Homo sapiens: one gene and its partners. The protein of the gene in region 2 interacts with the protein of the main gene of each other region in a biochemical or structural test. Each region holds a gene or a part of one and is shown on either strand. Other genes may lie near its edges. The genes, in order: DIAPH1, TCERG1 and SF3A3.

Region 1 (3,750 bases), 4.9 Mb from region 2:
TCATTTCCACTTGAAATAGTCTGAACTGAAAATGCTCTCACATCTAGACTGTGTCTTATTTCCCTCCCCATGCAGAGACTTTTGGGCTCTAGCTTCATTCCAAACTGCCCCACCTCGGCTGGCTTTCTCCACATGGGCAAGCTCGTCTGGAAACTTGAGGACATCGGGATAGTCATTCTCACACAACTCAGCCAAGAAGTGTAACAACGTCATCTTCTGATCTGTGGACTTGGTGTCTCGAAGCTTAGAGAAAGAGGAGAAACTGTTAAATCCTGACATGTCCAAGATGGCCTCCTGCCAACACTGAACTCATAGAGGCTACAGCCTTCCTTGTGTTGTCCTGCCCTACCTCTTTGGCTCACCTTACAGAGGAAGCTGATATTGAAGCCAAAAGCACCAGCATTTCTGGAGCCAGCATTCATGTAATTTCCAACAAGCAAGGTAATCTCTAGGAGATTGGAAAAGCTCTCACTCTTACGTAACTCCTCACATGCAGCAGTGACAGACACAATCTCTGGCTTGATATTCTCCACTTGCTCGCTGAATTGTAGCTTGAAGAGAATGGCATTGAGGCGAGGCCGCAGTCGGGGCACAGTGCCCATCTAGTAAAGAACACAAGCAGTTCCATTACAGTCAAAAGAGGGGGAAGTCAGAAAAAGATACACGCTTGAGCCTCCTATGGGAGGATCACAGCTCCAGAGCAGGGAGAAGAGAGAGATTAAGACAGGTTCAAAAACAGACAAGCGGCAAGGAGCATATGCCCAGGCTGCTCTCTAGAGGGGAGGGGAATACAGGAGGTGGAAAACCGCTTACTGCCACAGGCCTCACTCACCACCACGCCAAACTGCTCTGACTCAGCCAGGTCATCATATTCATCCTTCAGTTCAGAAAGCATTTTTAACTGCTCTGGCTCTGGCATTTGCTTAATGAGGTTCTGAAAGACAGAAGAGACATCTCAGCTGGAGGGGAATTCGCTAACAACTCAAGCCTAAACAACTTTTACTCTGTTGTCAGTCCCACACTCTGCTCAAGGACCATACAGAAAGAAACATATGGTGGGAGAAGAGAGGCAGCTACTGAGATGGGGGTACTTTTGCAAAATATACCAGAAGTAATCTGACCACCAGAGAAAAGGCAGTTTCTCAAAGCCAGCATTCATAAGTCAGCAATGCTGGAGGAGGATCCTCTTCATCTACACAGAGATGAGGCCAGTGCCCAGCGACACAGAAGAGCCTGCTCCAGCAGAACCACCTTACTCCTTACCTGGATCATAGACTCAGTCAGAACAGCCTCATTCACCTCCAGGATGACATTCTTAATCTCTTGATAGGGCATGCGGAAGGAACCCAAAAAGATTGCTGCCAGAAAATGAGATATTAAGACATGTTCTTCTCGGTCTGTTCCCGCTTCCAACCCATCCTGCAAACCTATGCTGGATAATCTTCCTAACAGGGCTCTTTTAGGCCAGGCACAGTGGCTCATGCCTGTAATCCCAGCACTTCGGGAGGCCAAGGTGGGCGGATCGCTTGAGCCCCAGAGTTTGAGACCAGCCTAGGCAACATGGGGAAACCTCATCTCCACAAAAAATACAAAAACTAGCCAGGCGTGGTGGTGTGCACCTGTAGTCCCAGCTGCTCGGCAGGCTGAGGTGGGAGGATCACCTGAGCCCAGGAGGTCAAGGTTGCAGTGAGCTGTGACCGCACCACTGCACTCCAGCCTGAGCAACAGAGCGAGACCCGTCTCAAAAAAGTATATATACGTCAAAGACTTTCACCCCACTCTACTTTAGTTCCCCACTCTCAGGACGTGATCCTCAAAGCTGCCTTGACCTTAAACCACCATATCCTATTCCCTAACAAATACATCCTGTTTTTTCAACTCTCCCTTTCTAATCTCTCACTTGACTCTTCAGCCTTATCAGGACCTCTCTTTCCAGTCTCCTGACCATTCTGTTTTCACTGATATATCAGTTCCACTCTGCCTTTCCTATTTCATTAGGAGCCTCTAAACCATCAGTTCATTTGCTCTCTACTATGACTCCCATTAGTATTATTACTCCTACTATTACCTTTCTTTTGCTTCCTTCTCCTTCTGGGTCCCTGGTCAGTCTAGCCATTTCATTTCTCTACTCTGACACCTAGGCTGATGCGGACTGGAGTCTATGAATTTGCAGTAGCACCAATGATAACTGGGGCCTCCGCGCTGTTAGCAATTCTCTTTGTGTGTCCCAATTCCACTTTCTCCCACCCTTCTTGGCAGGTCCTCCAACATATTCCCACTTTCCCCACTGCCCCACCACTTCCCCATTTGTTCCAGGAAGACCCTGCTCCTCTTCACTGAGAAAAATCAAAGCCACTGGTCAAATTACTTGCTCAGCTTTCTCTTATCCTACTTAAAAATAAAGCACTAGGGCTCTTGGTTAGAGCCAGACTAGAAAAGACTCAGATAAGCCTTTTGGAATCGCCTAGAAGAAAACTATACCAACATTTTCGTAAGCTTATAGGAGGCATGTGTTCATATATTTACGTCTAAGTATATATACTCCCATGTACTCATCCTTTCCTCATGTGTCAACAGAAGAGGCAGCCCCACAGACCTTTCCCTTCATCATATATACATAATCAAGTTTTTTAAATCTTACTCAATGTTCCTCTCTAAATTACCAGTTTCTCTTTCTTTCACTTTATAGCAATCTAAACTAGCCTATTCTCTCTCACTTCCACGACTCTGATTTATTCCATAACCACAAAGCCAATGAAAAGATGGCAGCCACTTAGAGAATATACTTTAAGTAAGACACCAACCTGCTACCTCTCACATCCACCTCCCCGAAAAGACAATCTGTTCCTGCTGAATTTTCCTATTTCAGTAAATGGTACCACTTTCCGCAGAGTGACCTAAACCTCAAAGCACCTTCTCCTTTATCCCAAGTCAATCACTAAATTCCATTAATTTTACCTTCTCTCTCTCTCTCTCTTTTTTTTTTTTGAGACAGCATCTCACTCTGTTGCCCAAGCTAGAGTGCAGCAGTGCAGTCATAGCTCATGGCAGCCTGGACCTCCCAGCCTCAAGCAATCCTCCACCCACCTCAGTCTCCCAAGTGGCTGGGACTATAGGCATGCGGCACCACATCTGGCTAGTTTTTTATTTTAATTTATTTATTGCTTGAGATGAGTCTCACTCTGTCACCCAGGCTGGTGTGCAACGGCATGGTGTTGGCTCACTGCAACCTCCGCTTCCCGGGTTCAAGCGATTCTCCTGCCTCAGCCCCATGAGTAGCTGGGATTATAGGCGTGCTCCACCATGCCCAGCTAATTTTTCTATTTTTAGTAGAGACAGCATTTTGCCATGTTGACCAGGCTCGTCTCGAACTCCTGACCTCCAGTGATCCACCTGCCTCAGCCTCCCAAAGTGCTGGGATTACAGCCATGAGCCACTGCACCTAGCCTAATTCTACCATCTTAATATCCTCTCCCTCTCTTATTCTCATCACCTTAGTTTCAGGCCCTGATCACATCTCACCTAGTTTAAAACAATGACATAACTCATCTCTGCCTATAGTCTCCCCTTACCTTAGCAATCCAGCCTCAAAATCACTGCCAAAGCAGCCTTCCTAAAAATTACACAGGATAAAAAGCAATCCAGCCTCAAAATCACTGCCAAAGCAGCCTTCCTAAAAATTACACAGGATAATCTCACTCATTTTCCTGATTTAAACTTTACTCAGTTGTACTCAACTACTTGCAGTTC
Region 2 (3,750 bases):
GAGAGGGCCTGTAGAGGCCAGAAGTGGGAAAACAGTTTGAGGTGACATTTGAACTAGAGGCTGAGTAATGAGAAGGAGCTAGTTATGTGAAAATCTGGGGAAGAACATGCTCGGCAAAGAGAACAGGTGCAGAGGCTTCAAAGTAATAAACTTGAAATATTTAAAGGAAAAGACTAGAATTTGTGGAAAGGTTAATGTGGGCCAGGTTATACAGGGCCTGATATAATAATTATAGTAATAATAGCTAACATTACTAATATTAATATTATTTAACACTTACCAGTACTATTACTGTCCTAATGTTACAGAAACAGTAATGATAGCTAATAACTTAGATAGCACTTACATACTAAGCACTATTCCAAGTACTTTATTAGCTCATTTAATCCTCATTGCAGGTTCTGGTGAGGTTGTTGTGATGAAGCAGTATAATATAAAGAGCCCAGCCCATGTTCTGTGCGTAATTAACATCAGAAAATGGCAACTTCAGGCTATTCAAAAAAGGAAATTATGTGAATTTTGTCACCATTTTAGTGGCAGACTTTTGAAAACCATAACAAATTAATAATGAAATGCCTTTTACAGATAAACACTGCTAGGTTTTGTGGGGGAATGAAAGTAATGATAGTTGAAGTAGTTTACTGTGTACCAGCTACCACCCTAAATGTTTCACCGGGATTATCTCATTGAACAGTGATATCAGATACCTTTTCTGTTCCTTACTCATTCACATCTGAGGAAACTCAAGGCTCAGAAATTATGTAACTAGCCTGACAACAAAAGACGGAGTCCTAACAGGGCTTTTTTATGGTTCTGGATCTTAAATGCTTAACTTCAAGCTGTAACCAGGAAGTATGAAATTGTACAGAAATGAATACTGTAGACTTTTTGAAAAAAGGAGAGGCAGATGGAAAGAAAATCTAAGAGTAGGGTACATTATTAACTCAAGCCTGAAACAGAGTGTCTTTCCTTGGTGATTATCTTTTTTTTGCCCTAAAAGTTTGGACATTCCTTCAGTAACAGTGGCCTGTGTCTTTTGGGGATGCATATAATTTGAAAAAGACCTTCTGATTATTTTGATGCGATCCATATTCCTTTTTTTTTTTTTTTTCTTTTAAGACAATGTCTTGCTCTGTCTCCCAGGCTGAAGTGCAGTGGTGTGATCTTGGCTTACTGCAGCCTCCACCTGTCAGGTTCCTCCTGTTCTCCTGCCTCAGCCTCTTGAGTAGCTGGGATTACAGGGAAGCACCACCACACCCGGCTAATTTCTGTATTTTTAGTAGAGTGGGGGTTTCACTATGTTGGCCAGGATGGTCTCGAATTTCTGACCTCAGGTGATCCACCTGCCTTGGCTTCCCAAAGTGCTAGGATTACAGGCGTGAGCCACCGGGGGGCGTCCGGCCCATATTCCTTTTTAACTCATATTTTCTAACCTTTGGATTGTAGGATCATTTGCAAATTTGATTAAATATACTTGGTGTAGTAGTTCTGGACTTGTTTACAGTCCTGGTTATACCAGGACTGTAAACAAGTCCAGAAGGCAAATTAGTTTTTTTTTTTTTTAATTTTTTAATTTTTTTGAGACTTGAGTCTCGCTCTCTTGCCCAGGCTGGAATGCGGTGGTGCAATATCGGCTCACTGCAACCTCTGCCTCCTGGGTTTGAGTGATTGTCATGCCTCAACCTCTCAAGTAGCTGGGGCTACAGGCATGCACCACCATGCTTGGCTGATTTTTGTATTTTTAATAGACTCAGGGTTTTGCTATGTTGGCCAGGCTGGTCTCGAACTCCTGGCTTCAAGTGATCTGCCCACCTCTGCCTCCCAAAGTGCTGAGATTACAGGCATGAGCCACTGCTCCTGGCCTAAATTGGTTCTTTATTAGGATTTTTTTGGTGTGTGTCAGAATTGAACGATGATGTGGTAAATTTAGAGAAAGTTCAAAGGGTAATCTATAAGCAGAGGGTTGAAAAATGTCAGAAAGTTGAAAGAGCCTGGTAACGAGAGACTATAAGAATGATTATTTTCAAATATATAAAGAATATAATTGTTAATTCCTCTCTTGAGGACAGAAATGTAGGTTTTTTATGTATAATGTAGATGTATAGTAGCTACTGGGAATACCATGATAGGTACTCAGTAAATGGGTGGAATTGTAAAAATAATTTTTTTAAGATCCTGCATACGCTACTTGTAAGGTAGTTTGGGTACTGTATCACCTAGGTATTCAGTGGTTCATGCAACAAATACTAATACTAATATTTATTGAGCCCTACTATGTACAGATCTATGTGCTAGGGATACAAGAGTGAACACAATTCCTACTCTGAAGGAGCATTTGCCTGTGTTTGAATCCTCTCTTTATTTTCTTTATTTATTTATTATTGAGACAGAGTTTTGCTCTATTGCCCAGGCTGGAGTGCAGTGGCACAATCTCGGCTCACTGCAACCTCCACTTCCCAGGCTCAAGCAATTCTTCTGCTTCCGCCTCCCAAGTAGCTGAGATTACAGGCGTGCACCACCATGCCCGGCTAATTTTTTTGTATTTTTAGTAGAGATGGGGTTTCACCATGTTGTCCAGGTTGATGTTGAACTCCTGACTTCAAATGATCTGCCTGCCTTGGCCACCAAAGTGCTGGGATTACAGGCGCGAGCCACCGTGGGCCACCTGAATCCTGGCTTTAGTACTGAACCAGTTGTGTGGCCTTGGACAAGTGACTTCTTTGCTTTAGTTCTTTATCTATAAACTGAGATTAATAGTATCCATCTCATTGGGTTGTTTTGATGATTAAAAGACTTAATTTTTGAAAAGAGCTTAGAGCAAGCACTGCCTGGCTCATAGTAAGCACTTTTAGGAGTTAATAATTCTCTTTACAAAAGCACTTGGGGGAAGAGATAGATAATACTATCTCATGTGATATTACTTATTTGCTTAAATGCTGTGGAGAAAATACATTAGGGTGTTGAGAGTGAGGGGTGGTGGGGCAGTGTGCCCTACAGGGAAAGGCTTTCCCTTTAGGTAGAGACTACTAATGATCTGCCAAGTGACCCCCCTGCCCCCTTTAAAAACTTTGGAAGTAATTTCAAATTTACAAAATGTCGCAAAAATAAAGCTAGGGTGTTATTCAATGTTAATATTTTACCTCTTCTGCTTTACTATTTGCGTGCACACGTGCATCCTCTTTGTTATTCTGAACTGTGAGGGTAAGGTATACCTATGGCTTTTTACCCTTCAATACTTCAGTATTTTCTAAGAATAGAGATATTATTTTACTTAACTACAGCCTAATTATCAACTTCATAAATTTGTAATGATATAATACTTTAATCTGTTGTGCATATTCCAGTGTTGTCAGTTGATCTGGCAATGCCCTGTATGGCATTTCCTCCTGTTAGTACAGAATCCAATCTAGAGTTAAAATTGTGTTGTTATTGGCCGAGCGTGGTGGCTCACGCATGTAATCCCAGTACTTTGGGAGGCTGAGGTGTGCAGATCGCCTGAGGTCAGGAGTTCAAGACCAGCCTTGCCAACATGGCAAAACCCTGTCTCTAAAAAAAAAAAAAAAAATTGTGTTGTTATGACTCTTTAACCTTTTTTAATCTGGAGCATTTCCACAACATTTCTTTGTCTTTTATGGATAACATTGACATATCTGAAGAATACACATCCCCCTTTTAATAGAACATTCCTTCCGGCCAGGCGCTGTGGCTCATGCCTATAATCCTAGCACTTTGGGAGGCCGAGGAGGGCAG
Region 3 (3,750 bases), on a different chromosome or scaffold from region 2:
GGGAGGTGGAGGTTGCAGTGAGCCGAGATTGCGCCATTGCACTCCATCCTGGGGGACAAGAGTGAGACTTTGTCTCAAAAAAAAGAAGTCAAGGCCACATTTTGTGGGCAGCTCCCAGCCAGTGACTGAGCACAGTATGGGTACTAGGGCCCAGCAATTTGGTCCACTCTGAGACTCCTCTGATGAATAATCTTTGCTCCATGGCTCCCCGTTGGGTTGGTCAAGATTTTGTCCAATCTGCATTGTGGTCTAGGCTATCCTGTCCTAATCCTACTTTCTCTTCCTTTTTATCTTTCACAGAAATTACTCTCCCCAATAAATTGTGTTCCTAACTCTGTCTTTTTTTTTTTTTTTTTTTTTGAGATGGAGTCTCGCTCTGTTGCCCAGGCTGGAGTGCAGTGGCATGATCTCGGCTCACTGCAAGCTCCACCTCCCGAGTTCATGCCATTCTCCTTCCTCAGCCTCCTGAGTAGCTGGGACTACAGGTGCCTGCCACCACGCCTGGCTAATTTTATGTATTTTTTAGTTGAGACAGGGTTTCACCATGTTAGCCAGGATAGTCTCTATCTCCTGACCTTGTGATCCGCCCACCTCGGCCTCCCAAAGTGCTGGGATTACAGGCATGAGCCACCGCGCCCGGCCCTCATATGCCCTGGAGCTCACTTATAATAAGGTAAAGAGAAAAAGGGCCTGGGAAGGCTTCCATCAGAAAGGTCACATGACCACTCCAGGTGGTGTTGCCTTACTGAAGTTAAGCAAAAGAGAGTTTCAGAAAGGCAGTCATGGTGTCAACTGTTATTGATTTATATCTGCCAGGATTGCTGCTTCATTAAAGTAGTATGAATGGAAATCTGGTCACAAGGTAAAGATGGGTAATGGGGAAGTAGAAGTATGGAGTATGGAACATGCATTTGAAAGGCTGGTAGCCAGGTGCAGTGACTCACGCCTGTAATCCCAGCACTTTGGGAGGCCGAGGCGGGTCGATCATCTGAGGTCAGGAGTTGGAGACCAGCCTGGCCAAAATGGTGAAACCTCTCTCTACTAAAAACACAAAAATTAGCCGGGCATGGTGGTGCACGCCTGTGATCCCAGCTTCTCATGAGGCTGAGACAGGAGAATCGCTTGAACCCAGGACATGGAGGTTGCAGTGAGCTGAGATCACGCCACTGCACTCCAGCCTGGGCAACAGAGCAAGACTCCGTCAAAAAAAAAAAAAAAAAAAGTCTGGTAGGAAAAAGAAGGGGAGAAACAGGAGGGTATTGGGGAAGACAGAGAAGCATACTTATTTGAAGGAGCACAGGGAAAAAGGAAGAGACTAAAAACAGCAAAAAATAGAGGCTGTTTATTGCAATACATAGCGCGGAGGTAAATGAAGGGACCCTCACACACATAGCCCCCTTGGAGGATAGAGAATGAGGTCTTCTGCTAACCAAGGGAGAATAAATGAATACCATTCTGATGTGTTAACCTTATTCCAGCCATGGTCAAAAGGTAATGAGGAATAAATGCTTAAATAACTGATTAGAAGGATGCCCAAGATATACTAAATGTCAGACGCAAGTCTTTTATGTTAAAAAAACAAAAACAAAAACCTATGCAGGCATGAATGTACTTGTACAAATACATATATTTAAATACATAGAGCACTGTTTTCCAAACTTTGTGCATATTTGAGCCACCTGGGGATCTTTAAAAAGTACTGATACCTGCCCTCCTTTGATTTAATTGGTATCAGGTGCATCAGGATTTAAAAAAAAAACTCCCCCAGGTGATTCTAATGTGCAGCAAAGTTTGGGAACCACTGGCATAGCAAAAGCTCTGTTAACAGTGGTCACCTGTTCTCAGGAGAATTAATAAAGGTGGACTTTTGAGTTTTTGTGAGCATGTGTTACTTTAGTGGGTTTTACTCAAACAGTACAAAAAAGCGGGGAAAAACAAGGTAATTGGAGAACAGTAGTAGATTTCCTAGTGAAAAATCAAGGCCAAATAAATCATCAGAAGTCCAACTTTCTGTGTATTTCATTTCTGTGATCTTGCAACTTTTACATTGAAAAATCCGCCTGCGGTCAGGCACAGTGGCTCATGCCTGTAATCCCAGCACTTTGGGAGGCCAAGGTGGGCAGATCACTTGAGCTTAGGAGTTTGAGACCAGCCTGGGCAACATGGCAAAACCCTGTCTCTACTAAAAATACAAGAATTAGCCAAGCGTGGTGGTGTGTGCCTATAATCCCAGCTACTCGGGTGGCCGAGGCAGGACAATCGCTTGAACCCGGGAGGTAGAGGTTGCAGTGAGCCAAGATTGTGCCAGTGCACTCCAGCCTGGGCCACAGAGTGAGAATCCATCTCAAAAGCAAAAAGAAAAATCCACCTGAGCTTTTACTTTTCCCCTCAGATCTGTGTGCCAATGTCAGTGGAATTTGAGGAACTCCTGAAGGCTCGAGAGAATCCAAGTGAAGAGGCACAAAGTAAGTAGGGGTGAAAATTTCATTCAGCACCAGCAAAAATACAGGTTAATGACAGCTCAGATTTGCAGCCATGGCCTCAGAGATATTTATAGCCAGGATTTCTTGCTGGTTTTGTCTTTGCTGGTTTCTGGGCTAGAGTGACATCCTAAGTTGGTCTTGGGCAAAATGTTCATTTTGTTCTCTCCTACCTCAAATTTACTGGCTTGGAAAGCCAAGGATTGTTCACTTTAGTTCACAATACTAAAATGAGTCAGTCCTTGTTACCTTGTAAGAGAAAACTCACTTTTGATCTCACTTAACTTATTGGAGGTTATATTGTGAGCAAAGGGAAGACATTTGGGTGAAGTGCTGCCTCAGGAAACTAGGAACACACAGTCCATTTGAAAAGGTAAGTCCAAGAGAGTGGTCTGTAGAAACTGAATCATTGATGTATCTGATTCCCTCAGACTTGGTGGAGTTCACAGATGAAGAGGGATATGGTCGTTATCTCGATCTCCATGACTGTTACCTCAAGTACATTAACCTGAAGGCATCTGAGGTAAGGCCTGGGAAAGGGCAGAGAGGTTCTGATTCTCGAAGTGAGTCAGGACAGTAGGCTGGAACTAGCAGACATGAAGCCATTGTAAAGTGTCTTCCTTGTGTTTTAAAACTCTTATGTAAATATTAAAGAGGTGATATGCTCTCTTGGAATGAAATACTATTCAAAATGAAAGTTTTCTACAGTGAAAACAAGAAGCATATTTATTTATTAATACTTTTTTTTTTATTTTGAGATGAGGTCTTACCATGTTGCCCAGTCTGGAGTGCAGTGGTATGATCTTTGCTCACTGCAACCTCGACTTCTGGGCTCAAGTGATCTCCTGCCTTAGCCTTCTGAGTATTTGAGGCTACAGGTGCATACCACCACCACACTTGGCTAATTTTTGTCTTTTTTTGTAAAGATGGGGTCTTGCAGTGTTGCCCAGGCTGGTCACAAACTCCTGACCTCAAATGATCCTCCTGTCTCGGCCTCCCACAGTGTTGGGATACAGGCATGAGCCATTGTACCCAGTCCATTATCAATACAGCAAGCATATTTTACCTTTGCCAAAATAAATCTTTTTTTTTTTTTTTTTTTTTTGAGACAGGGTCTCACTTTGTCACCCAGGCTGGAGTGCAGTGGCGCGATCTTGGCTCACTGTAGCCTAGACCTCTTGGACTCAAGTGATGGATCCCGCCTCAGCCCCACCAAGTACTTGGGACTACAGGCGTGTGCCACCATGCCCAGCTAATTTTTTGTATTTTG

The links.
Region 1: the proteins of TCERG1 (region 2) and DIAPH1 form a complex in vitro, tested with the Homo sapiens proteins (one study listed by BioGRID).
Region 3: the proteins of TCERG1 (region 2) and SF3A3 form a complex in vitro, tested with the Homo sapiens proteins (one study listed by BioGRID).

The regions. Positions count from the first base shown.
Region 1 is NC_000005.10:141,528,340-141,532,089, forward strand, and holds part of DIAPH1 (protein diaphanous homolog 1), read right to left. Parts: intron 1,359-3,750; coding exon 1,264-1,358; intron 935-1,263; coding exon 833-934; intron 603-832; coding exon 363-602; intron 244-362; coding exon 114-243; intron 1-113. UniProt on the Homo sapiens protein: Actin nucleation and elongation factor required for the assembly of F-actin structures, such as actin cables and stress fibers. Binds to the barbed end of the actin filament and slows down actin polymerization and depolymerization.
Region 2 is NC_000005.10:146,450,225-146,453,974, forward strand, and holds part of TCERG1 (transcription elongation regulator 1), read left to right. Parts: intron 1-3,750. UniProt on the Homo sapiens protein: Transcription factor that binds RNA polymerase II and inhibits the elongation of transcripts from target promoters. Regulates transcription elongation in a TATA box-dependent manner.
Region 3 is NC_000001.11:37,983,422-37,987,171, reverse strand, and holds part of SF3A3 (splicing factor 3A subunit 3), read left to right. Parts: intron 1-2,392; coding exon 2,393-2,465; intron 2,466-2,911; coding exon 2,912-3,003; intron 3,004-3,750. UniProt on the Homo sapiens protein: Component of the 17S U2 SnRNP complex of the spliceosome, a large ribonucleoprotein complex that removes introns from transcribed pre-mRNAs.